Linked DNA regions of Homo sapiens: regions 1 and 2 are each linked to region 3. Evidence: fine-mapped expression QTL. A gene starts in region 3. Each other region holds a variant in brackets. All regions are shown on one strand. Distances are from middle to middle.

Region 1 (10,712 bases), 65 kb before region 3:
CATGGCCACAGAGGAGCTACTAGGGGCAGAAAGCAGGGTGGGCCAGCGGGAAGATCCCGGGCTGGGAGTCAGGAGACCTGGATGTGCAGCACACCGACTGCTGTGCTCCTACCCCTGCCCGCACTCAGACCCTGAGTGTTCTTCCCTATAAAATAAAGGAGGCAGGACAGAAATAGATGATTCTGTGTAAATCAGCCAAGTGGTTTGGGGAATTGGCTGTCATCCTTTTTTGTCCATCTTGTTCTTTCTCTTCCCCCTGTGTGTTGCTCGGTGTGGGGCATCCTTCCCTCTGGATTTAGAAGGTTTATGCTCTTGCAGAAACAGCCTCCGCAAAGCACTTCACGTGTTTGGGCTTGTTCTCTGCATCTTCAGTGCCCCCCTTCCTCCATTGGGAGCCTGTGTTTATAGAAGGAGGATAATTGACCCTAAACACAGAGTGAGGGTGGGAAGGCGGGGGGCGCAAGGAGCCAGCACACCCCCCTGATCTTCCGCAGGCTTTGTGAAGCCCAACAATCTGGCCCTAATTGCTTCTAATACCCCAGGAGACAGTGCGGCCAGCCTAGGTGTCTTCTCCTATCTCTTACTGAGATTTAAATTGCCATGGATGTGTAATTTATGTTCTTCCCAAGACAGGTGGTCATAAATCGGGAAGAGAAAGGCCTGGCCACATCCCATAAATCATGGGAAGGGAAGCAAACAGTGGTGTCCACAGCCTCTCTGCTATTGGGCAGGTTGCTCAGAGCTACACCACTTTCTGCCTCTGGGCACTCATGGTGCCCATGGCTGGGGTTGCTTCTGGAATGCCAGCGCTCAGCTGGGAGACCTCTGTGCCTGACCAGCCCTGCCTCCTGATGTTAGTCACCCACAGGCAGAGCCCGCGGTGGTACAGCAGTGGGAGGAAAAGAAATACAGAGGCATAGGGAAGCCTTTGTCTGTAAAATGCTCACAGCGGGAGGCACAGTGGAGGCATGTCTGCTAACAGGAAGATATGAAAATGGAATTTTTCTTTTCTTTCTTAAGGGAAAGTGACGTACACACTGATCCCCATGGTTGAAGGAATGGCTGGAGTCTGCCGTTGTTGCTTCCATGACATTTTGCCCCTAATGGAAAGAATATAGCACAGTTACTGCATGGGTACTCAAAAAAAAAAACGTTTTGCTGGATGCACGAATACTGTGACAGTAATGACATTTGCCAGCAGCCACTTGTGTCAGGCTGTGCTCTGCTGAGCTAAACACAGAATATATAGCAGTGGTAACTCCATGGGAGGAGGCAGACTCTCCACCCTAGTCTGGCTCTGTCACCTCCTAATTGTGTGACATTGGCAAGTCGCTTAGGCTCTTCAAGTCACAGTTTCTTTATTGGTATAAACTGGACTTGTAATACCTCTTCTGGTAGACTGGAATAAGGCAAGATATAGGATTTTTATAGATGATAAAATACTGTACACAGTGACCATGTAAGCTGCGGTCATTGAGAGTCACTGTTTATAAACTTGACACCTTCTGAGAGGAGGAGAAGCCTGACCACACTTCTTCCCATACTCAGAGGCTGCTTTAAATGAAACCTAACACGAACTTGCCCAGCGGCCAGCCTCTGGAGGTTCAGTGTGGCACCTCTCCCAGGAACGTTCACGATGCCGTCTAATTCTTCAATTTAATTTAATTTAATTTAATTTATTTATTTATTGAGACAGAGTCTTACTCTGTCACCCAGGCTGGAGCACAGTGGAGCAATCTCAGCTCTCTGCAACCTCCGCCTCCTGGGTTCAAGCAATCCTCATGCCTCAGTCTCCCAAGTAGCTGGGATTACAGGCATGCGCCTCTACGCCTGGCTAATTTTTGTATTTTTAGTAGAGACAGGGTTTCACCATGTTGACCAGTCTGGTCTCAAAGTCCTGACCTCAGGTGACGTGTCTGCCTTGGCTTCCCAAAGTATTGGGATTAACAATGCTGTTTAATTCTTAACCTGGCCATAGAGATAGGCAGTCATGAGGCCTCAGGAATGGCTTCTGCCGCTGGTGACTTATGGTCCCATGAACGCCAGTGGTGGGATCGGGCAGTGACCAGATACTCTGCCTGGAGTCATGGCCTGGACGTTGACCAGTGAATGCGTAAACCAGGCAGGGTAAACAAGGATCAGCCCTCTGTGGTGCACAGCACTTTAACGGTAACAAACTGTTTCCATTTACATTGCACCTTGTAAATAATAGAGACCTCGGTTTTAAGCTAAATAAAGTGTCTTGGGCTTCCTGCTCATTAGAATAGTTATGTTTCATGTTCATTTAAGGAGAAAGTGCACTAAGGAAGATTTTAAATGAGTTTTAATTTATTAATACCAACAGGAATACATATATGAAAAGTCACATATTTAAAAAATCGTAGAAGACCCATGTATGAAAGAATACTGTTTCAGAGTGTTGAACTTAGTGTGCGCACGAATTCATAGACTGCTTGCAATACCTCTTAGTGCCACAAGGCGCCGCTAGTGACCTCGTTGAGTCTTCCCACAGCCTGGAGGCGGGCTTCCGCAGCAGTAGCAAGAGGAGGTGGTGCAGGAGGCGGTGAGAGCCCGCAGCAAAACCAGGCAGCTGTAGGAAAGCCCTGGCAGGCCGGCCCACCGAGAACCCCTTTTCCACTCCCATAGCTCTTCCCGCTTCTACTCCTAGACAGCGGAGTGGACCGCCACCTGTGAGCCGGTGACCACACCTGCACTTTCACAAAGCAGCTCCCTCACCCCGACCTGTGCAGTTTAGGGAGGCTGTGCCGAGAGGGGCAGCCGCTCTTTACGGTCCTCTGCTCCTCATTACCTGGTGGGGGAGTGAGTGTGTCTGTGCTTGGTTGGCAGGAAGGGATAGGTGAAAAATGTAAGTGGCTAGAAATTGGTGTAGGTGACTAAATTGTGAGACCCCTCGGTTCTTCTCAGGCCTGTGGGTGTACTCAGGAGGATGTCGACGACCAGGGTTACATCCTGGGTGGGAAGAGTCCACTAGACTCTGAAGTCAGCCAGGCCTGGGCTCTGGCCCCAGCTGGATCCTTTAGATCTGTGATCTCAGGCAAGTCTGTTACTCCCCCTGAGACTTAACTGTAAAATGAAGAAAAGGCAAATTCCCACATAAGCAGGTTGTAAGGATTAAAAAAGAGAACATGTGTAAAGTTCCTTATAAACTATCCATGTGTGATGCGCAGAACTCCAACTCTCAATTTCTCCCCAAGATAATGAGAGTCTGGACTCTTAGACTGCAGAGCTTGGCAGCAACGGAAACACCCATACAAGCAGCTGATGTGTCCCCTGTTCCTGAAGAGGTCACCCTCTGACAGATAGATCTCAGAATGTCATGAATGTTGCATGCTGAAAGAGGAGAGCCAGGCTAGGAGAGATGCCTGGTTTGTCAGGTCCAAGGGCATTGCAGAAACCTGATTACAGAGAGAGGAAATACTCTTGGCAAGGCAGGGAAGCCTGCATCAGCAGCTTGTTATTTTCATTCATCCATTCATTTGTTCATTCATTGTTCAACCAACATTATTTTTGAGTGGTTACAGTGTATGTGTGAGGCACTGTTCCAGGCCATGAGAATGCAACAGAGAACAAAGTGGACACAGTGCTGCCTACAGGATGTTTACAGTCTGGGGAAGGAGCTGCAGGTCTCCAGAAGGTGGTTCTAGATTTGACTCTCTGTTTTCTCCTTAACAATTTCTGATTTGAAGAACAACATTAGAACCAAGTTGTTGCAGTCACTTTTTCACTTTTTTTTAAAGCAAGGCAGAATAAAATGAATGATTTATCTAAAATGTTTTAAATATAAAAATGATGTAAAATTAGGGTTAGATTAAATAAAAAACTGAAGGTTAACTTCTTCCCAGTGGGGAAGGTGGGGGAATCTTGCCATGTGAGTCCCACACATCTGCTCATGTACCCTCTCCCTGCGTCTTCTTTAATTTTCTGCTGGACAAAAATATTCATATTTATACTGCCTCTGACAGACGGTTTTACTCATGAGCATACTAATCCAGCCAGCAAACAATGGTGGGTCACAGGTGATGTAGGAGGCCCGGCATTGGGCGTGAGCAGTACAAGGGCATTAATCACAGTTCCTGTTCTCCAGGGACTCTGCCTTGTAGAACAGACAAACTTGTGCCCTGACATTACAGGACAAGATGTGTGAGTATTGGAGGGGCAAAGAGAATTGAGGAGGGGGAATTACTCGTAGCTGGGGGAACCTGGGCTTCCTTCCTGGGAGATGTGGTGTTTGATTTGGGCCTTGAGGCAGGTACAATTCTAAAGCATGGGGACCTGGAGGAGGAGCATCCCACAGGAATCACAGAGGACTTACCGAGTCAGTACAATGCAAAGCAAGGTGAAATCCAGCAGAGAGCTGCAGAGGCACAGGTAAGGAGCAGATGGCAACAGGTCTGAAAAAGCAGGCTGGGGCCAGGTAGAGCCCTACATACCAGGCTGAATAGTTGGAATGTTATTCTTTAGGCACTGGAGAGCCACGGAAGGTTTGTGAGCCTAGGAATGATAAGACCAGAACACAATTAAAACAGTGATATAGTGCAGTGTCAACAATGAATTGAAAACAGGTAGAGAATGAGGAAAAGAGGTTGGTTAAGAAGTTATTATGATAGTCTGAGCATGCTGGAAGCAAGATCGTGACAGTCGGAATGAGGAAAAGCAAGCCAAGTCAAATGATGTTGTACAGGAAGAACCTTGGAACTCGGCAGCTGCGGACAGGCTGTGGGAAGAGAGGACAGTGGTGTAAAGGATGGGCTCCCAGCCCAAGTGACGGCTAGGATGGTGGTTCAGGTGACAGACATGGAGGAGACAGGAGGAAAGATGCCTAGGGCAAAGGAAGATGATAAAGTATGTCTAGACACATTGAGTATCTAATTTTTTTTTTTTTTGAGACGGAGTCTTGCTCCATTGCCCAGGCTGGAGCGCAGTGGCACAATCTCCGCTCACTGCAAGCTCCGCCTCCCAAGTTGATGCCATTCTCCCACCTCAGCCTCCCGAGTAGCTGGGACTACAGGCACCTGCCACCACTCCTGGCTAATTTTTTGTATTTTTAGTAGAGATGAGGTTTCACCGTGTTAGTCAGGATGGTCTTGATCTCCATCCTGGTTGTGATCTGCCAGCCTCGGCCTCCCAAAGTGCTGGGATTACAGGCATGAGCCACCACACCTGGCCAAGTATCTAACGTCTTAATGCCGAAAGGGGGAACATGAAGGTAGAGAAAAGATGTGGGGATGTGGCCATTGCTTATGCTTCTGTCGTTGTTTGCTGGGCAGGCTGTTCACTGCCCCACTCCAGGAGGCGCTGTTCTGTTGAGCTTTGA[C/G]GGGATGGTGCCCTCTCGAGCTGTGCGTGCGGAGGCCCTGTGTGGGATGGAAGCCACGTGCTGGTTGAGCTCTTGCATCCGCTTGGCTGTGACTCATCATGATCTTTTCCTATTGCAGTTATCGCCAGTGTGACCCTTCAGAACGAAAGTTATATGGAAAATCACCACTCTTTGGGCAGTATTTTGTGCTGGAAAACCCAGGGACCATCAAAGTGGGAGACCCTGTGTACCTGCTGGGCCAGTAATGGGAACCGTATGTCCTGGAATATTAGATGCCTTTTAAAAATGTTCTCAAAAATGACAACACTTGAAGCATGGTGTTTCAGAACTGAGACCTCTACATTTTCTTTAAATTTGTGATTTTCACATTTTTCGTCTTTTGGACTTCTGGTGTCTCAATGCTTCAATGTCCCAGTGCAAAAAGTAAAGAAATATAGTCTCAATAACTTAGTAGGACTTCAGTAAGTCACTTAAATGACAAGACAGGATTCTGAAAACTCCCCGTTTAACTGATTATGGAATAGTTCTTTCTCCTGCTTCTCCGTTTATCTACCAAGAGCGCAGACTTGCATCCTGTCACTACCACTCGTTAGAGAAAGAGAAGAAGAGAAAGAGGAAGAGTGGGTGGGCTGGAAGAATATCCTAGAATGTGTTATTGCCCCTGTTCATGAGGTACGCAATGAAAATTAAATTGCACCCCAAATATGGCTGGAATGCCACTTCCCTTTTCTTCTCAAGCCCCGGGCTAGCTTTTGAAATGGCATAAAGACTGAGGTGACCTTCAGGAAGCACTGCAGATATTAATTTTCCATAGATCTGGATCTGGCCCTGCTGCTTCTCAGACAGCATTGGATTTCCTAAAGGTGCTCAGGAGGATGGTTGTGTAGTCATGGAGGACCCCTGGATCCTTGCCATTCCCCTCAGCTAATGACGGAGTGCTCCTTCTCCAGTTCCGGGTGAAAAAGTTCTGAATTCTGTGGAGGAGAAGAAAAGTGATTCAGTGATTTCAGATAGACTACTGAAAACCTTTAAAGGGGGAAAAGGAAAGCATATGTCAGTTGTTTAAAACCCAATATCTATTTTTTAACTGATTGTATAACTCTAAGATCTGATGAAGTATATTTTTTATTGCCATTTTGTCCTTTGATTATATTGGGAAGTTGACTAAACTTGAAAAATGTTTTTAAAACTGTGAATAAATGGAAGCTACTTTGACTAGTTTCAGATCTTACTAACTTCTTGGCACAAAGTTAGACTGTGAAAGCTGACTGAGGCTGGGCACAGGGGCTCATGCCTGTAATTCCAGCACTTTGGGAGGCCAAGGTGGGAGAATGGCTTGAGCCCAGGAGTTTGAGACCAGCCCAGAAAATATAATGGGATCCTGTCGCTACAAAATGTTTTTAAAATGCACTCGGTGTGGTGGTGTGTGCCTGCAGTCCTGGCTATGGCTACTCGGGAGGATGAGGTAGAAGGATTGGTTGAGCCCAGGAGCGGGAGATTGAGGCTGCAGTGAGTTATGATTGCACCACTACACTCCAGCCTGAGTGATAGAGTGAGACCCTATCTCTAAAAAAGAAACAGGAAAAAAAAAGAAAGCTGACTGAGGTGAATGGGCAAAGCCAGTAATTCTGACACCTGACCACAGCTGGGTCTTCTGCATAATGGACCTCCTCACCCACAGCCTCCCAGGCAAGCACCCATGTTTGAAGGACTATCAAGTCAACATGCTTTTTACCAAAAGCTGCACATTTTTCACTTTGATTTTATAAAAGAGGTCAGTAATCGCTGAAATCTAGCTGAGCCCTGAAGTAAAGTTCTGAGCAAAGAGGTGCATGTGCTTGTTTTATGGTTGGTGAATTATTACAGTTTGTTTTCTGCATGCTTGGCATGAGGTGAATAATTACATCAATTTTCCAGAGAACCTGGGCCATCACCTTCCCCAACAAGTCCAGTTGATGTTGAAACTACAGATAGATTGAGACAAAGCGAAGTGTTCAGCAAGTAGCATTACTAATGGGACCGGGGGACCCGTGGGAGAGTGAGTGTACACAGGATTTAGGAAACCATGTGAATATGGGCTCTCTGGGAATAGCCAATAGGTAGGGAGCAATCAGAAACCCAAGGTTTGGTGGCTCTTCCTAGGTATTTATAATTAGTGGCAAGTGAAAGCCTTAGTCCTGAATTTCTAACCACTTGTAAGAACTAACAGCCACTTCTCTGTGCCCCGTCCGGGCAGTAACCATCATTCTCCATGGACAGGCTCTCGGGGTAGCTAGCTCTGCAGGGCAGCACCCACGTGGAAGGGAGCACCCAGAAACCCTCCTCACTGGGCAGACCTGTCCTTCTGTGCCTCACAGTGTGAGGAAGATTCCTGTTTGAAGAGAGAAGTTCCAGTGACCTCTAGAATCTCAGAGTAGTTGCCAAGCTTTCTGTCAGTGAGATTTAAAGGCCATTTACTTGTGTTTATTTTATATTTAATGAGTTGGTTAATGCCAGAGACAAAGCTGATATCCCATTTATTTTGGATACTGAGCATTTGCACACTATTCCACTTGAAATATAGAATCAGGAATGTAGGCCATCCCAGACTTTCAGATCTTACAACAGCAAATGACAGATGTTTGAGATCAGGCCAAAATATCCACCCTCGGTGGGCATCTCCTCTGTGTGGCAACTTATGCTGCAGCCACAGTGGGGAGTCACAAACTCAGAGCTGGAGGTCTTGAAAAGGACAATGTGGGCCAGGCTCCGGAGGGGCTGCCTAAAGGCTTGCTTTTGTGACTCTCCTGCAGAAAATGTTAGAAACTTCCAACCGAAAGACGAGGGCAGCAACTTATACACACGAAGGCAGAAAGAAATTGGGGAAGGGGAGGCTGTTGGAATTCAGGCCGTTGTCCTATAGGGAGAAATACTCCTCCTCTCCTTCTCCCTTTACTGATAACGGGGCATGGTGAGGAGATGAGCTTGTGAGGGTCTGCCAGTTTGGTAAGAGTGCATGGGGAGGTTGGGTAAATTAGACTAGCCAAATGGGACTTCGGGAAACCATTTATGAGGCTGTCACCAACAGTGATGGCAGGCTGAAATTCCAGGCAAGTGCTCCCAGCATTCCAAGAGTGTATCAAATTAAAGCAACCCATGATGGTGGAGAACAGATACATTAAAGTTCCTTGAAAATGACAGAGTGGCTCTCAGACCAGACCTTGATTGTGGGTATAATCGGAGTGTTGCTACCACACCCTAACACTGCATTTCCCGTGTTTTATTGGTCCATGGAATTCTGAAAGTTTGCCTTTCGGGATGCTTCTAAAAACAATTCCATGGACCAGTAAGTTTGGAAAGTCCTGCGTGCCTCACTTCTCTTCAAAGGCAAAAGGCTCTGGAGAGGCCTTCATGAAGACATCTGTGTTTAATGCTGCCCTTCCCAAAGGTCTGTTTTTGACTGTCTTTTGAGAAATGATCCTCTGATCTCTAGGCAGAATGCCAGTGAGCCAAGGAATCCCAGTTAGCAGGAGGGGTGCACTCATGGGAAGACTGAAGAAGTTAAAAGTTCCCGCCAAGTGAAGGAGACCTATCTTGGGACACTTCCCCTTGTCCTCTCCCTTGCCCCTCTTGCTGGAGTAAAAGGATGGAACTGGGACTTGATAGGTTAAAGGAGGTGTGGAGAAGTGTCTTAGACCAGCTCTCCTGTTGTGGGCCTTAGGGAGAAGCACTCTCTTTCTTCGGGATCATTTTCCAAACATGCATTTTTGGATGGATAGGGTGGATCAGGGTGAGGGAAGGGAAACCAAACTCTCTCTAACCTTGCCCTTACAGCAATACCTGTGATGTAAGTTACAAAACCACCTGTGATGAAAGTGCTCCAGGATGCTTCATGCACCAGGGAGGGGTGCCCTGTTTCTCTTCTGCTAGCTTCTCCTTTCTTTTTTTTTTTTCTTCTTTTTTTTGAGACAGTGTCTCACTCTGTTGCCAGGCTGGAGTGCAGTGGTGAGATCTCAGCTCACTGCAGCCTCTGCCTCCCAGGTTCAAGCAATTCTTCTGCCTCAGCCTCCCGAGTAGCTGGTGTGTCTGGAGTTGGTTCCTTCTGGTGGGTTCTTGGTCTCGCTGACTTCAAGAATGAAGCCACAGACCTTCGCAGTGAGTGTTACAGCTCTTAAAGGTGGCACGGACCCAAAGTGAGCAGTAGCAAGATTTATTGTGGAGAGCGAAAGAACAAAGCTTCGGAAGGGGACCCAAATGGGCTGCTGCTGCTGGCTGGGGTGGCCACCTTTTATTCCCTTATTTGTCCCTGCCCATGTCCTGCTGATTGCTCCATTTTACAGAGTGCTGATTGGTCCATTTTACAGAGTGCTGATTGGTGCATTTACAATCCTTTAGCTAGACACAGAGTGCCGATTGGTGAGTTTTTACAGTGCTGATTGGTGCATTTACAATCCTTTAGCTAGACACAGAACACTGACTGGTGCATTTATAATCCTCTAGCTAGAAAGAAAAGTTCTCCAAGTCCCCACTAGACCCAGGAAGTCCAGCTGGCTTCACCTCTCACTGGGACTACAGGTGCACACCACCACACCCAGCTAATTTTTGTATTTTTAGTAGAGACGGGGTTTCACCATGTTGTTCAGGATGGTCTCGAACTCTTGATCTCGTGATCTGCCCGCCTCGGCCTCCCAAAGTGCTGGGATTACAGTTGTGAGCCACCACGCCCGGCCCTAGCTTTTCCTTTCTGTTGCAAGTCCTCTCAACTAGTGTTGCCTTCCACCCTACAAAGCAGAATTACCTCAGAAGTCCTATGGCCCTGACTCTATCTATGTCTGCACAAAGCACTACTGTGCTTTGCTGTCTGCAAGAACAGAGATTGTTTGCTTCAACCACTTTCTCTGAATGGATGAATGAGTTATGATGATATCTAAAGTTACCCAATTTCAAGCAAGAGGAAGAATCTGGCTCGGTACCACAGATGTTCTTGGAATTGGGATAGTAAAAAAGTCCCTGAGGCATCCCTTGGTCTGCTCTGACCACACTCTCTTCACAGGAAGAGGCTTGGGCCACAGCTCTGACTATAACTCTGCTCTTCCTCCAAACACAGCTGAGGAATTGGGTGGTGGGGCACCTGCTCCCATGCTCTGTGGCCTGGCTCAGAGAGAAGAGTTGCCTTAATTACATTATTATTCTTCCTGGACAGGCTGTAGGTTGTGTAAAGTAACAAAAAGGACTGAGAAGTGACTTCCCATTCAGCCTCTTCCAAGGCCATTTTTGATAGGCAGGTCAAATTCACTCACATTTGGTTATTTGTTGGCCAGTCTAGTGCATTCACCCTTGCTGGTCCTCAGTCATGCTCCTTTACCTTTACAGAGCATCCTAGACTGCTCTTCCTCTT
Region 2 (10,712 bases), 120 kb after region 3:
ACTGTTGGTGGGACTGTCAACTAGTTCAACCATTGTGGAAGTCAGTGTGGCGATTCCTCAGGGATCTAGAACTAGAAATACCATTTGACCCAGCCATCCCATTACTGGGTATATACCCAAAGGACTATAAATCATGCTGCTATAAAGACACATGCACACGTATGTTTATTGCGGCATTATTCACAATAGCAAAGACTTGGAACCAACCCAAATGTCCAACAATGATAGACTGGATTAAGAAAATGTGGCACATATACACCATGGAATACTATGCAGCCATAAAAAATGATGAGTTCATGTCCTTTGTAGGGACATGGATGAAATTGGAAACCATCATTCTCAGTAAACTATCGTAAGAATTCTAAAAGTTTTGACGATTACGTCTAATCATGCAGTCAACACCACAATGAAGACAGAGAACAGTTCCCTCACTTCCCTACATTTTCTTCTATTACATTTTAGTTCATCCCTCTCCCCACCCCAGCCTTTGACAATCACAAGCTTATTTTCTGTCTGTATACTTTTGCCTTTTCCACATGTTGTATAAATGGAGACATACTCTGTGTGTCTGTGTATGTATGTGTATGTGTCTTGAGAAACAAAAACAAAAACAAAAGAAAGAAGGCCTACAGGATCACCACACTTGGTGAGACTGGCATAGCTGCTCAGCCAGAATTCTCCATGGCGAAGTCCTGAGTTTGAAACTCTCTTAACTGTTACCTGCTAGTGGAAAACACTTGGCAAGTCAATGGATATTTGAGCCTAAGTTTTTTCACCTGGAAAATTGGGGGTGGGAGAGGGTTAATACCTAGCTCACAGGACTATGGTGAGTATGAGATGGGATTAAATATGTGAAAAGGTTTAAAGCACTAGCAACTGCCCGCATCAATCATTAGAGATCCCCTGTCCAACATTGTTATATGTGAAATCTAAGGGAAAATTAGAATCAAGGGCCCCCTTGAAACCACAAGGAGGCAAGCAAAAGTGTGGAAGACATGGGAAGGACAGATCCACTCTTTATCTTGATGGTGGTGGTGGTGGTGGTGACAGCAGGGGTCGGGTGGGTTCTGGCCTGATCCAATGTGTATTTGGAGTTTGGCAAAGTTTCTTTTCTCACTGGCATCTCTGTCTTTTCTTTCTACTGGCTGCTTTCCTTCACAAGTACCCCCGCCCCCCGCCCCCCACCCCCCACCAAACCAAGCATACAGGCCCTGAAAATGTAGGGTAAGGTGTAATTTGTTTCCCCAGAATTCAGAGCCAAAATGTTTTACCTTTCAGATCTTAGTGCTTGTCAGCTAAAAGTAAACCATAGTTTAGCTTCACCTAATTTCCCAATAAGCGTTGCAGTATATCATGAAACAGAAATGAAATTAAGTGCTCAGGAATTTCTCATGCACCAACCGCAGGCTGCAGCAGGTGCTCCTCCCCTCCCAGCCTGCCTCTGGAGAGTTCCCTTGTGGAGGTTGTTATGACTTTCCTGTTTAGCAAGGGTCTGTGTTTTCAAACCATCCAGGTTTTGATGTGTCTGGCAGGTTGGTAACCTTGTCCCACCTTCCACAATAATCAGTTTTGCCTCCCGAGGTTGTGACAAAGTGACTAGGAGCTCCAAGGAATGGGATCTCCCAGCTCATCTTCTCACATCGATTAGGGTTTAGTTTGTGAGGCTGGTGGGCAAGAAGACGTTCTTGCACAGCATGGAAAGGAAGGGGCCATACATTATGAGAGTGAACTTTTTAGGCTGGCTGAGAGGGGATAGACACACGCGCCATGCCTGGAGAGCTCATCTTTGGGGGCTATGAGGTATCTAAACAGTCCTCTTTTGCTGTGTCACTGCCTTTATTACTAGACAGAGGCAGTGGCTATTGTATTGTGATGTGGCTGTACTGTTACGGTTTAAAGAGCAAAATCCACATCCCTGAATGTGAGCATATGACAGTGGCCAGCTCATAAAACAGGGCCCAGATCAGGCTTTAGTGGTGCCTACACATTGAATGAGTGAATAAATAATAAATGAATGTGTGAAGTCATCTATGGTCAGTAACCAGGGAGGAAATAGTTTCCGGATTGTAAACAGAACCACTGGAAGGGCCCCAGTGGTGGGAAGGGAACCATTATCACCTTGGTTCTAGCTGAGAAGGATGTTCCTGATGGGAGAATGGAGACTACATGGGCTTAACACAGGGATCTGGTGTAGGAGCCATGGCAGAGGGCCATGGGTGCCAGGCTAAGCAGTGTGGGCTCTATCCCGAAGGCAAGGAGAGAAGACAGTAAACATTTTTTTTTTCGTTTTGTTTTGAGATGGAGTCTAGCTCTGTCACCAGGCTGGAGTGCAGTGGTGCAATCTCGGCTCACTGCAACCTCTGCCTCCAGGGTTCAAGCGATTCTCCTGCCTCAGCCTCCCGAGTAGCTGGGACTACAGGCACGCGCCACCACACCCAGCTAATTTTTGTATTTTTAGTAGAGACGGGGTTTTACCATATTGGCCAGGATGGTCTCGATCTCTTGACTTTGTGATTTGCCTGCCTTGGCCTCCCAAAGTGCTGGGATTACAGGCATGAGCCACCATGCCCAGCCGACAGTAAACATTTTTAAGCCTAAATGTGATATGAATGCAGATCTCTCATCTATCTATCTATCTATCTATCTATCTATCTATCTATCTATCTATCTATCTATCTATTATCGATCTATCTATATATATAGTCTTTCTATGGACTGAAGTGTGTCCTCAAAAATTAATATATTGAAATTCTAACCCTGCAAAGTGACTGCATTTGGAGGTAGGGCTTATGGGAGAGAAATAAGATTAAATGAGGTCATAAAGGTAGAGTCCTAATCAGGTAGGATTGGAGTCCTGATCAGATAGATCTGCCATACAACAAGAGGAAGAGAGAGGGAGAGAGCTCTCTCTTTCTTGGAATGCACACACTGAGGTAAGGCCATGGGAGGACATGGTGAGAAGGCAGCTGCAGTGCCCTCATCAGATGCCAACCCTGCTGGTATCTTGATCTTAGACAGCTTGTAGAACTGTGAGAAGTAAATTTCTGTTTTTTAAGAGACCCAGCCTATGGCCTTTTGTTATGGTAGCCCAAGTTGACTAAGATACAGAAACAAAATGAGACTAGCCAATTCTCCAGGCCCAATCAGGATCTGGCAAGGATGGTCACCTGAAATTGTGCAGGGAAATTTAACAAGGGTTGGGGGCCGTGGATTATCTCTCAGAGATGAGGCAGAGAGAGACCACCTCCCCAGAGAAAGTACAGATGGCATCAGGTTTGAAGCCTTGGCCTCAACATGCTCCTGAGGCTCACTAAATCCTTAAGAGGATGCATAAAGAAGAGACTCACATTGTGGGTTGACATTTGCAGGTTGATCCCAGGATTGAGACTCTCCAGATTTGAGTGCCAAGTCCCAGATCAGCACAGGCATGGCTGCAGCCCCAAGTGTGATGAGCAGAGGTGTGGTCAGCCAGCATGGGGCCTGGTACAGAGGCTGGGCGGGGACTCACCCTGTGTAGGGAAGCCCAATATACAGAGGCCAAGAACTTGTATTTTCTTTGTATCCTGTCAGCAACCTGTGCAGTAGCAAATACCTAAGAGGTTTACAAGCTATGTAGGAAATATTTGGCAAGAACAGTGATCTGTTGTGACATGGCTTATGCATGTGTAAATTTTTTCCTAATCACGATGTAATCTGATTTTGTGGCTATGTAGCCAGTCAGGGATTAGAAAGGTAGGATTTAAGTGTTACCAGACAGCTCATGAAATAATTGGTTAAGTAGTCTTCAATTAAGTGTAAGTGTAGACTGTTAAAAGCACAATAAATCTCTTATAGGTGTTGGAAGTACACCCCAACCCTGCCCCATCTGTCCTCATTCAAAGCCCCTTCCTCCCTCTTCCTTCCCCTGTCCCGAAGAATGACATAATTTCCTCACTGGTTGTCAGTCCTACATGATCCTTATGTGACTGGGCAAATAAACAGCATCTGCCTCATCATAATGGCTAATAATACCAGGTCCCTTCCAGGAAAGTTTCAAAATAAGAGAACTAGATGAGAAAAGCAATTGCCACATATTTATGGCCTTGAATGTGCTTGTCACCGTGCCATGTCCTCTTACGCATTTCCCCTTTTCTCCCAATCATCATTGTGTTTTTACTCCATTTATTGAGAGAGTCATTTTGAGGAACAAATGGTTTC[G/A]TTAAGACACAGGCAGACCTGGCCTGATTAACTCTAGCAGGATAGGTCTGACCAGAAGAGGCCAGGGCATGAACCAATCTTTGCCCGCTGGACTGGGAGGGAGATGATTTGAGGAAATTAAATCCAATAGGTAGATTTAAGGTGGTAAACTGGCAGGTACCAGGCATAGGAAGAGCCAACAGAAGGTGACAAAGAGTCTAGCCAGGCCAGTGGGGCAAGGCTATGGGGATTAACAGACAGGGATCACAATAATAACCAGCATTTATTGAGGCCCCCACTATGTGCTGGGCACTGTTAGATGGTTTCTTTGCAGTATCTGTGACTCTGACATAAAACTGATGCTCTAGCAAATTTAACACCCTTTAATGCTCATATCAATCATTCAAAGTAAAGATTATTATTAATGTGATTGTACAGAATGGAACAAAGCATTGAGAGGTTAAGTCCCAGACCACACGGCTACTAAGTGGTAAGGCTGTAAGTGAAGTCCAGAGTTGACTCCAAAGGCCGTGATCTTCCTCACCACAGGCACACACAGGCACACACATGCACACACAGACACACACATGCACACACAGACACACACATACACACACATGCACACACATACACACACATACACATACACAAATATACACATTATGCCTGGATAGACTGCGGCCGGAGAGAAGTTCACTCATCCAAGTAGCAGCCCAGCTTCCCTGACTCTGTCACTTCACCTCTGGAGGCCTGGAGGGTGATGGTTAGGCTTTGGGACTATTGCAAGCTCAGGCCACTCCTTAGTGATGTGGAGCAGGAAAGATCTGGTTCTCCAAATATCTTTTACACAAAAGCTGAGGAATAAATTGTGGGCCAAGAAAGGAGGAGAGGACTGTGTGGGGCTCAGAAATATGAAGATAATAATTTAGGGGAACAGAGGAGAAAGGAAGTAAATAAGGAAAAGAGAAGGGGAGTGGGTCAGGGCAACAGGGCCACAAAACTAATGAACAGAAGGAAGGAGTCTTGGAAGTTATGGAGACAATGGGCTAATTAAGTCAGCCTGCAACTTGGTCACAGGTGGGACCAACAGCTTCTTGGACTTATGCACAATCAGAAGGCCCTAGGGTCATGTGAGTTTTGGGTATGTATGTATGTATGTATGTATCTATCTATCTATCTATCTATATCTATCTGCCTATCTACCTATTATCTATCTACCTACCTACCTATCCATTTATCTATCTATCCATCCATTTATATCTATCTATCTGCCTACCTATACATTTATCTATCCATCCACTTATCTTCTATCTATCTATCTATCTATCTACCTATCTAGCCATCTACCTATCTATTATCTATCTACCTACCTACCTATCCATTTATCTATCCATCCATTTATATCTATCTATCTATCTATCTATCTATCTATCTATCTATCTGCCTACCTATACATTTATCTATCCATCCATTTATCTTCTATCTATCTATCTATCTATCTATCTATCTATCTATCTATCTATGTATCTGCCTACCTATACATTTATCTATCCATCCACTTATCTTCTATCTATCTACCTACCTATCTACCCATCTACCTATCTATTATCTACCTACCTACCTACCATTTATTTATCTATCCATCCATTTATATCTATCTATCTATCTACCTACCTATACATTTATCTATCCATCCATTTATTATCTATCTATCTATCTATCTATCTATCTATCTATCTATCTATCTATCTTCATCATCATCATCATCATCTCTATGAACTGAAATGTGTCCACCTAAAATTGATAGGTGAAAACCTTAACCCTCAATGTATTATCAGTGTTTGGAGATAAGACTTTTAGGAGAACATTAAGATTAAAGGAAGTCACTCATGTTCTGAATGTGTTATAAATTCAATTTTCCTGTCTGAAAGGTATGCAGTGGTGTAGGCGGTATGTGTTTAACCAAAAGAAGAAACTGAATTTTCCACTATTAATGGGAAGTACATAATAGTTTCTATTTGTGTGTTCATTACCTATGTGGTGTTTCAAATTAGTATTCCTGTTGTAAAAAGCTACCACTCTCTTAGGCTTCATCTTGCTTGAGGGCCACTTCCTTCATCTTGAAACTTCTCTGGTCTCTGTGATTCGCATTGCTTGCTGGTTCTCTTGCAGCTCTCTGCCTTTCTTTTGCGGTTCTTCTAGTTCATTTTCATCAGCTCATCCCTTAAAAATTGAGCTCCAGGCCAGGTGCAGTGGCTTACACCTGTAATCCCAGCACTTTTGGAGGCCAACGCAGGAGGATCTCTTAAGTCCAGGAGTTGGAGACAAGCCTGGGCAATATAATAAAACCCCGTATCTGCAAAAAATACAAACATTAGCTGGGCATGGTGGTGCACACCTGTGGTTCCAGCTACGTGGGAGGCTGAGGTAGGAGGATCACCTGAGCCTGGGGAGGTGAAGCTTGCAGTGAGCCGGGATCACACCACTATACTCCAGCCTAGGCAACAGAATAAGACCCTGACTCAAAACAAACAAACAAACAAACAAAAAACAGAGGAATTGAGCTCCACCAGTTTTACCAGGTGGCTATTGCTGCATAACAAGCAACCCCTAAACTTAGTGGCTTTAAATGATGGCCACTTATTTAGCTAATAGTCAGTACATCAGCTGATCTCAGCTGGGCTCCTCCTCTATCTGTGGCCTGCTACCAAATCAGCTGGAGCCTGGCTGGTTTAGGATAGTTTTAGCTGGCACGGCTTGTCTTGACCCCATATGGTGTCTAACCTCCAGGAGGCTAGCCTGACCTTATTCACACAGTGAGAGCATTCTAAGGGAAAGAAGAGGAATGAGCAATGCCCTTGTGACTTGCCCCCCAAAAATTCCAAGGGGAATTTCGTCCAGGCCTGTATTTTCTGATTTCTGATTTAGAACAGAGGATGAGCACGTGATCCCGCTGAGAAGTAGGTGTGTTTCTTACAAAATAATTAGAGACTTTTCCCACTTGATCATCTATTCTTCCTTGTGCTTTTCTAACCCCCAGCCTTGACCCTGGCAGGACCCTCCCTTTAGGGTGCCCTCTTTTGCAACTTTTCCCCCTCTTTCTGTCTCTGATTCTCTTCCCACCCCTCAGGACTTTTGTCATTCCCTTAAACAGACAGAAAATTCCCCTCATGACGAGGCCCCCTTCTTCGGGCCTAGGCTTGGACCTTGTACAAAGTCACTTCTGCATTGTATGGAAACAAAGCAAGTCACAATGGCAGTCCAGGTTCAAAGGGTAGAGAAAGAGACTCTCTTGGTGGGAAGAAAGGCAAAGTCCCATTGCACAGAGGTAAAGGTATGGAAAGGCATGAAGAATTGTGGCCATTTTCCCAAAAAATCTGCCTCACTAAGATTCTACCTTTGGTTGTTCTAATGTTCTCTTTAGATAAATTTGACTAATGTCATAGTGTTCCCCTTATCCCATGCCCCATGATATCACATATTGTCTTCTATAAAATTTAATTTTATTCTGTCAAATTGAAGACTGCCTGTACTTTTGTCGTCACCTTAAATAGAAAATTCTGCAGCAGTGCATGGTCCAATTTGTTGAAAGGATTCTGCGTTAGAACTAGTGGCACAGACTGCTCTTTTTCTACCAGAACCAGATTCTTCTCTTCTTTAACAGGAGAACTGATGAGCATTAGCTGGTTATTAGAGTTTCTATGACTTTTACTCTCAACAGGTCTACTTTTGCCCAGTTATTAGAGACTATATTCCCAGCCTCCCTTGCAACATTAATCAGGCCATGTACCTTATTTCTGGCCAATGGGATGTGAACAGAATAAAAGCAAACCAAGGAAGGAGTCTTAGCTGCCCTGCCTCTTCTTCTTTTCCCAGGGCTTGTCCCCAGCGACAGAAACTACATAGAGAATGGCAGAATCATCCTATAAGATCTGGAGTATCTACTTCTGAATTGTGAAATAAGAGAAAAATAAACTATAATCTTATTTAATCTTTGAATGAGGGGTCTTCAAAAAGTTCATGGAAAATGCATAGTATGAAAAATTACACATGAGTTTCATCTTTTTTTGCACCAAAATAAACTTGTACTAACTTGTTTGTCTGAACCCGATCTAGTTTGAGGCACAAAAGATAAGACATCTGTTTGAAAAGAGCCCCAATCAGGGCAACATAAATTCTGCTAAAATCGAAGCAAGAACAAACAACAAATTTATGATGAAGCTTGGGTGGACAAATGGCAAAACCATTGGTGTTTTACAAAAAATTTATGGGGAAAGAGTCCCCAAAGAAACCGGGATTTTATAAATGGACAACTCATTTTAAGAAGGGATGAGATGATGTTGAAGATAAAACCCACAGTGGCAGACCATCCACATCAGTTTGTGAGGAAAAATTTAATCTTATTCGTGCCCTAATTGAAGAGGACTGAGGATTAACAGCAGAAACAATAGCCAACACCATAGACATCTCAATTGGTTCAGATTACACAATTCTGACTAAAAAATTAAAGTTGAGCAAACTTTCCACTCAATGGCTATCAAAACTCTTGTGCCCAGATCAACTGCAGACCAGAGAAGAGATTTGACAGAAATTTTAAACAAGTGGGATCAAGATCCTGAAGCGTTTCTTTGAGGAATTGTAACAGAAGATGAAACGCAGCTTTATCAGTATGGTCCTGAAGACAAAGCACAATCAAAGCAATGGTTACCAAGAGGTGAAAGTGGTCCAGTCACAGCAGAAGTGGACCAGTTGAGAGTAAAGTCATGGCAAAGGTTTTTTGGGATGTCAAGGAATTTTGTTTGTTGACTTTCTGGAGGGCCAAAGAACATAATATCTGCTTGTTATGAGAGTGTTTTGAGAAAGTTAGCTACCACTTTAGCAGAAAAACTTCTGGGAAAGCTTCGCTAGAAACCAATTGTCCATGATGACAATGCTCCTGCTCATTACTCTCATCAAAAAGGGCAATTCTATAAGAGTTTCAGTGGCAAATCATTAGGTATCCACCTCACAGTTCTGATTTGGCTCCTTCTGACTTCTTTTTGTTCCTAATCTTCAAAAATCTTTAAAGGGCACCTATTTTTCCTCAGTTAACAACATGCAAAAGATGCAATGACATGGTTAAATTCCTAGGACCCTCAGCGTTTTGTTTGTTTGTTTGAGACAGGGCCTCACTCTGTTGCTCAGGCTGAAGTACAGCCTTGAACTCCTGGGCTCAAGTGATCCTCCTGCCTCAGCCTCCCAAGTAGCTGGGACTACAGGCTTGTACCACCATGGCTGGCGAATTCTTTTTTTATTTTTGCAGAGATGGGGTCTCACTGTGTTGCCCAGGCTGTTCTTGAACTCTTGGCCTCAAGCTGTCTTCCCATCTTCGCCTTCCAAATTGTGGGATTACAGGCATGAGCCATTGTGCCTGATCCTCTCAGTTCTTTAGGGATAGACTGTATGGCTGGTATCACTTACAAAAGTGTATTGAACTTGATGGAGCTTATGTTGAGGAATTGATTTTATTTTTTATTTTTATCTTTAAATTCCATTTTTCCATGAGCTTTTTGAAGTTCTCTTCTATTTGTGAGGGCTTATATTACAGAGTTTAGCTTGTGCCCTAACTAATATGGTGATGAGAGAGGAGTGTGAATGATGGCAAGTGACTATTGAAATGCCAGACTGGGGTCCCAGTGGCCTGTTGGGATTCAAGGTGGGAGGTGGTACCACTCCTTCCATTTTTTTCTTTTGTTTTCCACATTATTTAACATTTCTTTGGTTTTCTATCTCCTCTTTCTCCAAGGCATTTCCCTTCTGTTCTCTTTTTTGTTCCACATCATTTCCATAGTGGTGCTGTGGGAAATCTCTTATAACCTTGATCTTAAGAGAGAAAATTAGCAACCACAATGGAGGTTAATCATATTATATTAGACATCAAGAAGTGTGTTTTATTTTGAAAAAAACATAAGAGTTAAATATAATATTGTGGGTGTTTGTATGCCCTTCATCAAGCTTCTCCCGATGTTAACATCTTTCATAACCTTCGTACATTTATTAAAACTAAAAGATTAACACTGATATAGTACTATTTGCTAAACTATGCACTTTATTAAGTTTCTCCAATAATGTTCTATTTCTACTCCAGGGTCCAGTCCAGTCTACTATGCTACATTGAGTTGTCATGTGCCCTTAGTCTCTTCCAATCTGTGATAGCCTCTTGGTTTTTCCTTGTCTTTAATGACCTTGATACTTTTGATACTATTTGGTCAAGTGTTTTGTTGATTGTCCTTAAATTTACATTTGTCTGATGCTCTCTCATGGCTAGACTGAGGTTAAGGATGTTGGAAAAGAATACACCAGAAGCGAAATACCCTTGCCATTATACCATGCCCAGGGATACATTATGTAACATATACATATACATATACATACACAAATGTCTGTGTGTGTGTGTGTGTGTGTGTGTGTATGTATTTAGTGGTGATGTTAGCATTAATCACTTGATGCCAGGGCTCTTCACTGTACAGTTAATACTTTCCCATTTTCATACTAGA
Region 3 (10,712 bases):
ACATGTCATGCTTCCTGTGGAAATCTCCATTGCACATGGCTGCTGTGGGAAAAAGTGTAGGGTGGGGAGATGAGGGTAATACTAGAGAGAGCGATGAAGCATTGGAAGCTGAGAGGCATTCTCAGATCCAGAGGGTCATAGAGATTGAAGTCAGGGCTTTGATGGCAACCAAAATAGACTGCTTTCCAGCTGCAACGGAAAAAGGTGACTGGGATGTTATGATGGAGGGCAAGGAGGGTGGGTGAGAAGGTTTAGATAAATGCCTTCCTAGGCAAACTGCATCTAGTTGGTTGGATATTTTAAATAGTCAAAATGATTTACTTTTATTAGTGCAAAGACAAAACTGAATATAAACTGAGGGATTTATTTTCATTTGCAGATGTGAATTGGACACAGTATCATGCTACTTGTTGAATTCTGATTTAGAGCATCCACCCAAATCAAATTTGGGCCTCATTTGGGTAGATGCCCAAACTAGAATTTAACAAGTGGCATGATACTGGGAGGCAAGGAAGTCTCCACATTTAATGCTGAGGAGAGAAAGAAATTTCAGGACAGGGAAGTGTGTCTGAGTTAGACATACTTCTTTTCTACAGCTCCTTGTTTGAAATCAATACACATTCTGATTAAGGGCAGAGAGTTTTTCCTCTGAATAAACCATTTCCCCTGAAGAAATTGGCTGGATGGTATAATACCGGTTGATGAACCAGAAAACCTAGCCTCTGTTCCCTCCAACACCATTTCCCAACTACGTCACCTTGGGCAAGCCACTTAACCTTTCTGAGGATCAACTTCCTAAAGTCAAATGGGATAATAATCCCTCGTCGGCATCCTACAGTTGGTTATTTTAAAAAAGTGAGATAATAAATGTGAATTGACCTTGAGATCTGTAAAATGTACACAGTATTATTCCTGAACCATGACTGCTTCCCTTGCCCGGTCTAGTGATTTTAAGCACACAATACAAGATCTTCCCATATTGTTGCAATATGGAAGGAAACAGCTGCTAGTCAAAGCCAGTTTTAGAAACCTGCATTTTTGCAAAAGGAAGAGTCAACTTTCATCATAACAATGTTGCTGGCACAGGATGGTTACTGCCATAAAACAATGTAGAGATGGTCCAGCAGGTGTCAGCAGAGAACCAACTTTCAGTACTAGGTGGGCTCCTCCAGGGAGGGAGATGCCCGGGCCTGGTGGGCTGGGACAGGGCTGGGGGGACTCCGTCATTAAATCCAGGGCTGTCCCAGTTCTGGCGGGTGCTGGTAGGCAGATTGGGACCACTGAGATGGGGACAACAACCCATTGGCTTTATCTGCAAAATCCCTCTCATTGGCTCCAGGATCCTCTCCCTTCAGAAGATCCCTTCCCATGACTGTTTTTTAGTCTGGGCCTGAGTCCCTCTTCTGGCCCTAGAACCTGTGCTCTAACTTGAAAACCTGTCTCACAGGGAAGAAGGTTTATTTGTTTGTTTAGAGAAATACTGCTTTGGGAATGCCTTTCATCCCTGTCTGTTTTGGATATATGTTTTTCACCTACTCCTCCTTCTCCTACCTTAACAACCAGCCATTCAGATTCAATAATTCAGGCAACAAATCCAAGGTGAGTGGCTAATGTATGGGAAGTGGGAGAGCACTGTTTACAGCTACTAAATAGAAGCCCGTGCAATGAAGTATGTAAGCTCATATATGCTACAGATAGTCTCTCATATTTTACTCTTATGATTTCATTGCAAATGTATATGAGTCTGTTATAATGTGCCATGTTGAAATGGGTTCTGCCATAGGTTTTATGAGATTTGGGGTCTTTCTTGGCTGGATGTAGAGAGGATGACTTGGAGAGGCAGAGAAGCAGCTCTTTGAAACAGGAGCAAATCCCAAACTGCCTGCCTCCCCTCCCCTCCACATTTCTAAGATTCCCAGAGAGAGAGAGAGAGAGAGAGAGAGTGTGTGTGTGTGTGTGTGTGTGTGTGTGAGAGAGAGAGAGAGGTACATATATGTAAAGTGGTATATCTTAGTAGTGAGGAAGGGAAATATGTGAGAAGCCCTATGAGAGGAAAGGGCAAATGGAATCAGAGCCAAAAGGCTGTCTGAAACTTTGGAGCAAGACCTATGGATAAAGTTCAAGGGCAGGGCCACAGCCAAATAGAGAGCTGGCCACCTGCAAATCTGCCACATCTGGGAAATGGAGAAAAGGAAAAAGAATAAATCAAATAGCTATGGATGTTTGTAGCCCTATTGCATTATTTGCTTTTCCCACCCCATAGCAAAGTCCAATTCTTCTCAAAAACTCAGAAATTCTGGAATAACTCTAAGGTCTCCAAGGAAAGAGAGTTGTGTCCTACTTAGAATAGGCCAAAGTATGCGTGTGTGGGTAGGGGGTGTGTCTATGGGGGATCATTAGAGTCCTAATCTCTAGTATCTGGCACCCACAAAGAACAGAACTCCCATATCCACCACTAAGTATGACTGCTGGGACCAGTGATCCATAAGTCTCCAGCTGGCAGAAAGACAGGCACAATATACACAGATTCCTACGTTGCTGCAAATTTCTTGAATTCTCAAGTAGCTGGATAAGCTGTGTTTCTTTTTCTTTCTGATTGTAAATATTTAATTATTTACATCTCTTTTCTTGAAGCCAGTAGGTACCATGTTTGCAAGAATATTTGAAATTAAGAGGAGAGGGGTTCCGAAGTCCACAGAGCAACTGCCTTGCACATTATTTTACCCAGAATGCACAAGAAAAAGCAACACAGATAGCAGATATAGCCAGTTCAAGTCCTTGAAGAGTTATGGTCCTGTAATATACAAGGCCCAGCATTCACTATAATTGACCTGTGCTCAGTGTGGATCTGTGACTCTGGTTTTGGGACAAAAGTCTGCACTGATGATTTAAATATGGAGGCTCCAAAGACAGGTAGAACCAAAGGATGGTGAAACCCATCTCTTGCCTCAGTCATTGCATAAGCCCCTGATTCAGGACCCTTTTAAACCCTAAATCCCCATAAGCTATATTGTTAAATTATAAAACGAACCTTCTCTGATCTTATCCATTCCCAATATGGTGAAATCGTCTTTGGCTGTGTTTAACTAGGAAAAGTGAAGGGATGAGTTGAAAGCATTAAAAACAGCAGTCAGCATGATCAGAAACCCCAGCCAATGCGATATTTTCCAAAGAAAAGAGGCCACAGTTAGGGTCTCCGCTGCGTAGACCAAGCTCAAGTTAATTCGGTTTAGCCAGGCCCTTTTCTTTCCTGTTAAATTCTCAACCCCCATGGCTACCAGCCCCTGGGGAGCCCTCGCCTCTACCCCCAGGACCTCCCTGCCCGGCTCAGTAGCTCTGGGCCAGTTCATTTCGCCACAGCCCGGAGCCTCTCGGAAAGCAAAGATTAAAGGGGAAAGTCGCAGCTGTATATTTATATTTTCATTGCTAGAAGGGAATTGATTTCCGTGCATTTATTTTGGTAGTTGTAATACATAAGGGCGGATTTGCGTCACCCGAGCAACTTGCCGGTGGAGATAAAGTTGCACAAATATTGAAAGGGGAAGTGCTAGGAGTCATTATAGAGTTTTTCTCCGGAAGAAATAAGGATTTCTGCAGTATCCTAAAATACTAAGGCCGCTTCTATTTTGAGACCAATCTCGCAGGCACATCCGCTCATTTAGTCCCGAGTTTGAGCCCATCAAAAAACAGGAGATGACCTGAACTCCGGCGAGCCCAGGGTTTCCTGCTGCTTTCTTGGTTCTGAAGAGTGGGGAGTAAGGAGGGCGGGAGTCTGCGGGCTCAGAACTCGGCGAGGGGCCTGCAGGGGCCAGGCTTGGGCCTGGGGAAGGGGTAGAGGGGGCGGCGGGGGTCGCTCCAAAGACTTGTATTTCGCGTTTGCCTCCGGGAGCTGGGAGTAAGGCCTTGGATGGCGCCGACGCGGTTGCGAGGAAGCTGAGGCCTGGGAGAGCAAGGGGCGCGCAGGCGAAGTTGCAACTTGCACTCCAGCCGCGGGCCTGGCGGAGAAAGGGAGGCTCGCGGCGCCGCGAGGAGTCGGCGGGCCTCGGGGCCTCGCTTTCGCCGCATCTGCCCAGCGCTCCGGGCCTTGAATCTCGGCAGATGCGAGTTGTGGGCACCTAGGGAACCCTGAGGACTCGCATTCCCCCGGGTCTGTATCCCGTGCCCACCCCGGAGCGTCGCAAACCTTGGAAAGGGTGAAAGCTGATAGGGGAGTCTTATTTCTTAAGAGAGAGGGTGAGGGCGCGCGGCGCTGCCTCGGGTAAGGAGTAAATGCACCTCTTTCACAACCGTGAGTTTGGGCTTAGGCTGAGGTCTAAATGTTTGCAGTCAAATTAGAAACGCAATCAAACTGGAAGTGGCACTAGAAAGCAGAGGGCTCACGGCCTCCGCTACGCACACTCCCACCGAAGGCTCACCAGAACCCTCAGCCAGCGCCTCAATTGCCCATGTTGTACTTGTCGCTCCTTTGCCTTCACCTTGACACAGAAAAACTGGTCTTAATACGTCTCTCGCCCCAGGTACCCCTACCTTCAGCCAAACACACCCATCTATCTCTGGAAATAGCACCTCTCTCCTGGTTGCGTGGAGCAGGGGAAGAAAACCTTTCAGTAAAAGAGAGATGGAGAGCGAGAGCGGGAGAGCTGGAGGGCGGGAGGAGGGAGAGAGAGAGGGAGAGGGAGAGATCTTAGTGCTGGCTGATCAGAAGTGATTGATAATTTTCCAGGAGAAAGTCAAAAGCTTAAAAGGATAGCATCTGCATCAAGGGGCTAGAGAAAACACCAGAAATTAATTTTATAAGCCCAAACCCTGAACTCGAGATAGGCATGGCAAGTTCACTTGCTTTTCTGGGTTTATTTGGTGAGGAGCCTTCGTGCTGAAGGGAAATAAAAATGTCACAGAATCCCTGTTAGGAGATGCTTATTAGGGCAATCGAAAACAAAAGTTTTCGTGGTTTCATTATTCGTATTATTTTATTTTCTTCCTGAAAATGTGCAAGAACAGCTCATCTGGGTGGCCTGTGGTTTGTTTGGGAGAGGGGTGGGGAAATTCATTCTGACTATAATTTAAAGAGAAGAAATTCTTAAAATAGATATGTCGATGTTGCACAAAACCTCCACCACCACTACCCTGCGTTCTAAAGACCCAAGGCACGAATGGAAGACGTTGACCACCACGCAGCTCCTCCTGCAACCAGGCCCAAGGGGTTCCTGGGGAAGCTGTCACAGAATTGAAAGCAGTATTGAACCCCACGGAAATCTGCTCTTGTGGGCACTTGCAAAACAACGAACCCCACGTGATCCGGAGATGTGGTGGAGGGGTGAGGCTAACATTTCCTACAACCTCCTGCAAAGGATGGAAGCGCGTGCCGCTCTCCCGGGTTTCGGGAGGCAGCCTGTTTTGTAGCCTCTGAGGCTCCGGGGAAAGGTTTGGCTGCGTCTAAGAGAGACGTTTGGAGCCATCCGTCTTATTTTGTTTGAAAAGTCACTCGTTCAATTTGTCACTGTGTGACAGCTCAGAATAAAACCAATTTGCGGCCGCCCCTCCTCCTCGCTTCCCGGAGGATCTCCTGGGAGGCACGAGGCGGACGCGGTGCTGAGTTGGGCCGGGACTCAGGGCGGCAACATTTGGGCAAGGGCCCAGGAAAGATGAGGGGCTTTGCCGAGGACACGGACTCCTGGAATAAAAGCAGAATGAGGTCAAGAGAAGGGAAGCAAAGGGGCCAAAGCGCGCTCCGCTCTCCACCGGGAGGCGGGCTTTGCAGAGCCCTAAAGAGTGAGATTACCGTCCCTTCCCCACGCCCCCAACTCGCCCCGGGTGACAAGCGCTTCAGGAAAGCTCCTGTGATCAACCCTCCTTGCCCCGTGGCGGTTCGGAGCTGCAGAAGTTAGAAGAGAGTCAGAGCCCTCCGGAGCGGCTGCCTGGCCCCTACGCAGAGTAGCAAGAAGCACTGCGATGTGCGCTACTAAGCCCACGCGGCCGCAGCAAAAACTTTGGCGTGGCCGGGGCGTGGCTAGGGTCCGGCCAGGCCCCCTTGTTCCTAATTCCCCTCCACTCCCCGCTCCCATTGGTCACGAGGATGACCAATGAGCGCTCGGATCGAGGTCCTACCCCGGGCCTGACTCGAAAGCTCCTGCCAAAACTTTGGGAGTTTTTAGAGACGAGTTTTTTTTTTTTTCTATTACTTTTCCCCCCCCCTAACTAACGGACTATTATTGTTGTTGTTTTAAATTTAGCTCTTAGGGCTTAGCTATTTGGGTTTTCTTGCGGTGTCCGGCTCCCGTCTCCCTGGCTCCCCCGCCCGCCCTGCGGCCCCAGCGCCCCTCGCTCTCATCCAGCCCGCGAGGAGTGCGGGCGCCGCGCCGCCTTTAAAGCGAGGCCAGGGAGCGAGGCGGTGACCGGCCGAGATCCGGCCCTCGCCTCCTCCCTCGGTGGCGCTAGGGCTCCCGGCCTCTCTTCCTCAGTGCGGGCGGAGAAGCGAAAGCGGATCGTCCTCGGCTGCCGCCGCCTTCTCCGGGACTCGCGCGCCCCTCCCCGCGCGCCCACCCACCCAGTCCGGCTGGACTGCGGCAGCCGCGCGGCTCACCCCGGCAGGATGTTCGCAGCCGGGCTGGCTCCCTTCTACGCCTCCAACTTCAGCCTCTGGTCGGCCGCTTACTGCTCCTCGGCCGGCCCAGGCGGCTGCTCCTTCCCCTTGGACCCCGCCGCCGTCAAAAAGCCCTCCTTCTGCATCGCAGACATTCTGCACGCCGGCGTGGGGGATCTGGGGGCGGCCCCGGAGGGCCTGGCAGGGGCCTCGGCCGCCGCCCTCACCGCGCACTTGGGCTCGGTTCACCCGCACGCCTCTTTCCAAGCGGCGGCCAGATCCCCGCTTCGACCCACCCCAGTGGTGGCGCCCTCCGAAGTCCCGGCTGGCTTCCCGCAGCGGCTGTCTCCGCTCTCAGCCGCCTACCACCACCATCACCCGCAACAACAACAGCAGCAGCAACAGCCGCAGCAGCAACAGCCTCCGCCTCCGCCCCGGGCTGGCGCCCTGCAGCCCCCGGCCTCGGGGACGCGAGTGGTTCCGAACCCCCACCACAGTGGCTCTGCCCCGGCCCCCTCCAGCAAAGACCTCAAATTTGGAATTGACCGCATTTTATCTGCAGAATTTGACCCAAAAGTCAAAGAAGGCAACACGCTGAGAGGTAGGTCTTGGGCGGGAGGCTGCAGGCCTCTGACCACTGACCCACTCCCCGGACCCCGGGCTGGCTTGGGGTGCCTTTGAGTGTTTTTACAATTAAGGACAAATCGGTAAAACGGGAGAGAAGAAAACGAATTGTAAGAAAACTACAAAACATTAGGTCTAAAACTCACCTGTTCTATGTAAAACAAACAAAAAATGACTCCAGGGATTCTTTAAAAACACGTCTTAGAATCAATATTTATAAAAGTGGTTGGTGTAATTATCTGCTAACATGACTTTGATCTCTTTAATAATGTATCTAGAGACAGAATTATATTTTCTGACAGCTAAAGCATTTTTGGGAAACACTTTCGCACTTATCTGATTTCTAGTAAAAATTTCACCCAGGAAATGTAAATAATAAACAAAACCGCCTAGATGAGCGGGCAGAGTGGGGCCACCTTGGGGCGGAGGTTTTGCGTCTGTGGCGTTCTTGGAAGACACGTGAAAGTGAGGCCGTAAGCCGATTTATGTAAAGCCTTTACTTACTATATACATGCATATGGACGTGAGGGACACACAGGAACTTTTCGTGCGTCGCTCCTTGGCAACTGTTGGGAGAGAGAGGTTTCAGCGCCTAGACGGGTTCTCTCTTGACTTCGCTCAATAAAAGTGAATCCAGGGCAAGGGGAAGGGGAGGAACAAATCAGCGGAGAGTGTGAGTGTGCCCGAGATGTAACCTGCTATCCTTTTCCCTTGTCCCCAGATCTCACTTCCCTGCTAACCGGTGGGCGGCCCGCCGGGGTGCACCTCTCAGGCCTGCAGCCCTCGGCCGGCCAGTTCTTCGCATCTCTAGATCCCATTAACGAGGCTTCTGCAATCCTGAGTCCCTTAAACTCGAACCCAAGAAATTCAGTTCAGCATCAGTTCCAAGACACGTTTCCAGGTACGGAAAAACTCCAGAGTACTGCCTAACGGGCGAGCCGACTAACAGTCAGAAATCTCAGGACTGACGCCTCCAGGGCTGCCACGGTGTCGCAATCTCACAATTGGGGCGGGAGGCTACGGAGTCAGGAGAGAGAAACCGAAAGATTTCTCAGCGAGCTAGCGCTCGCTTCGGATGGTTCCCCTTGAAAAGGGGTAGAGGCGCCTGGAGATCCCAGAAAGTGTGTGCGTGGACGGTGGGGTGGGGGGCTTTCTCGAAGTCTTTTCGCCCCAGAGGGCTTGAAAAATGCAGCATCAATGTTGCTTATTAGCATATACACATTTTGGGATGACCTCAAACACTTGTGCTTGGCGAGTTTATGTCTGGGTGCCTGGACACATGCGGGAATAAACACACACACACACACACACACACACACACACACACACACACACACACACGAGATAATTCAATTCAGGGCTGTCATCATTCAGGCCCAAGGGACATTTTTGTCTACTCTTCGTAGGCCTGATGGCCACGCATGAGGTTTATGTTTTTCTCTTGGAATTAAAGGACAAGCCGCCAGGCTTCTCCACTCCACGCTCGCTTTAGGTCTTCCGACTGTCGTGTAAAATTCCTCCTTAGAGGGGCCATTCGGTGTATGTGCGAAGGGCTTTCTGAATGAGGGTGGAATCGACAGTTAACACGAAACAGTTTCAAGCCTTACGGGGACCCCCAGGCTGGCAGGTCAAGGACTGGACACTGAACGGCCCTCTTGTCTTTCTTCCCTCTGGCTCCCGTTCTGCGGCAGGTCCCTATGCTGTGCTCACGAAGGACACCATGCCGCAGACGTACAAAAGGAAGCGTTCATGGTCGCGCGCTGTGTTCTCCAACCTGCAGAGGAAAGGCCTGGAGAAAAGGTTTGAGATTCAGAAGTACGTGACCAAGCCGGACCGAAAGCAGCTGGCGGCGATGCTGGGCCTCACGGACGCACAGGTAAGGCAGTTCTGGCTCCAGCGCACAGCGCCCTCGGGCGGGCAGCAGCGCACGGCCTAGTCTGGTAGGTCCCCTCCATCCCGGCCGACTGGCCTCCTGCGGTGCAAACGCAAGATCTTGACTTTCAAGAGGCTTTGTGGACTACGCAACTTGAGGCAGGAGAAGAGGAGGGTGGAGATGGGGTGAGGGAGAAGGACCGAGAGAAGAGCTCATCCCCAAGATGTGTGTCAACAAGCACTGCATGTTTATTTTGGCCAACAGGCTAAAGAACCACGGAGAAAGCAAAAGGGCCGCTGGAAATAACACTGATACACTCAACTGTAGTGCAATTCGCTGTAGGAGGCAGTTTATTTCAGAAAAGATAAAAACCCAAAGGCAAGAGATTGTTGTTGGGTTTTTTTCCCTCTCACCCTCCCTCCTTCCTCCTCCTCCTGCTGCTTCTGCTGGATTGTGAAATCCCCAGTTGTGAGGAAGTGAAAATATAATTTCAAACGGAATTAGTTAGCTCCAGGAGGGCAGGGAGTCTGCTTGGAGTGGCCACACATTACAAGGCTTAGGCTCTGAAGAAAATCTGAAGGAAGGGGAGAGGTGAGGGAAAGAAAGAAAGAAAAATGATTCTCTTAGAATACCCAAGAGCATTTCAGCAGGTTCTGCCTATTTGAATTTTTTCAAGACAATAGGAAATGTATTGTGGCTGAAATAATTTTATTCTTTTTCTTAAATTTAAGAACTGGGCTTCCCCACCCCCCACCACCCGAGCTTTGACTGTGGAAGAGTCACTCTTGTGCACCCCATAGCACTGGCTCTGGCTCTGGGGTGCTGATTTTCCCCAGCAGGTCAGAAGCCAGAGGCAGGCTTCTTTTTCTTAGCTCCTTGGTCCCCAAATTGCTGTCTCTGTTTCTTTCTGACCTCCATTACACAACTCTTCTCCCCAGTACACACACACACACACACACACACACACACACACACACACACACACACGAGGAGCCCAGCCGTTTTCCACCAGCTGTGGATGTTATTTTTAAAAGGGAAGCTGGAACTTGTGTGAATGCGTTGGGTCCCCCAGGGGATCGTATATATCTGTATAGATTCTCTGCCCCATCTCTATCCCCTTCCTTAATTTTGCACACATTTAATTCCATTGTTTTCTGAGCCCCCAGGAGAATTTGTTTATCCTTAACAGGGGCAAGGTCCTTATCAGCTCTTGCGTACAAACACACCAAAGAAATGCTGTCTTACTGAAAGCCCAACAATGCCCCCACCCTACTGTGATTAACAGTTTAAAACCCCTTTCCCTTTCTGCTTCCCATGTTTCCTTTTTTGAAAAAAGTATTGCTTTGGGTAGTGGCAGTAGAGGAGAGGGCCAACTTAGAGCAGGAATTCTTAACACTGGCACACCAAACCCTTGACATTGTAAGCAATATCTTGGGCATATGTGTATTTTTCTGGGCTAGGAGTCCATAACTTTAATCAGATTCTCATGGGGGTCCTGGCATAAAAAAATTACATGGATTTAGAGTAGAGAGAGAGTATGTTGGGGGTCGGGTGCAGGAATCTGCCTTTCCAACAGTCACTCAGGTCATTTTAGTCCTGGGGCCTGAGGGTTGCATTTTGAAAACGGTCTTA

Direction of the effects. Alleles are on the strand shown, and positions count from the first base shown. SD is a standard deviation of normalised expression in the study named. Not every link is listed here.
For the expression in cerebellar hemisphere of the gene that starts at base 6,178 in region 3, G is the high allele of the variant in region 1 and C is the other (moderate effect, 0.45 SD a copy in GTEx).

What was found.
Region 1: its variant is fine-mapped to the expression of HLX in cerebellar hemisphere (GTEx, PIP 0.90).
Region 2: its variant is fine-mapped to the expression of HLX in whole blood (INTERVAL, PIP 0.94).

The regions. Positions count from the first base shown.
Region 1 is chr1:220,807,839-220,818,550 of GRCh38, forward strand. MTARC1 (mitochondrial amidoxime reducing component 1) reads left to right here. Exons shown (of 7, transcript NM_022746.4): 7 at 5,454-10,712. The coding sequence ends at 5,580. Among named protein-coding and RNA genes, the nearest start is that of LINC01352, 16 kb to the right of the region's middle. RefSeq lists enhancers at 4,879-6,078, 10,691-10,712. The variant C/G (reference allele first, on the strand shown) is at 5,336.
Region 2 is chr1:220,996,594-221,007,305 of GRCh38, forward strand. No RefSeq gene overlaps it. Among named protein-coding and RNA genes, the nearest start is that of HLX-AS1, 120 kb to the left of the region's middle. The variant G/A (reference allele first, on the strand shown) is at 4,198.
Region 3 is chr1:220,873,266-220,883,977 of GRCh38, forward strand. It overlaps HLX (H2.0 like homeobox), which reads left to right and starts at 6,178. Exons shown (of 4, transcript NM_021958.4): 1 at 6,178-7,184; 2 at 7,929-8,108; 3 at 8,899-9,083. The coding sequence starts at 6,593. HLX-AS1 (HLX antisense RNA 1) reads right to left here and starts at 6,875. Exons shown (of 3, transcript NR_046901.1): 1 at 6,584-6,875. RefSeq lists a silencer at 5,735-5,784 and an enhancer at 6,903-7,511.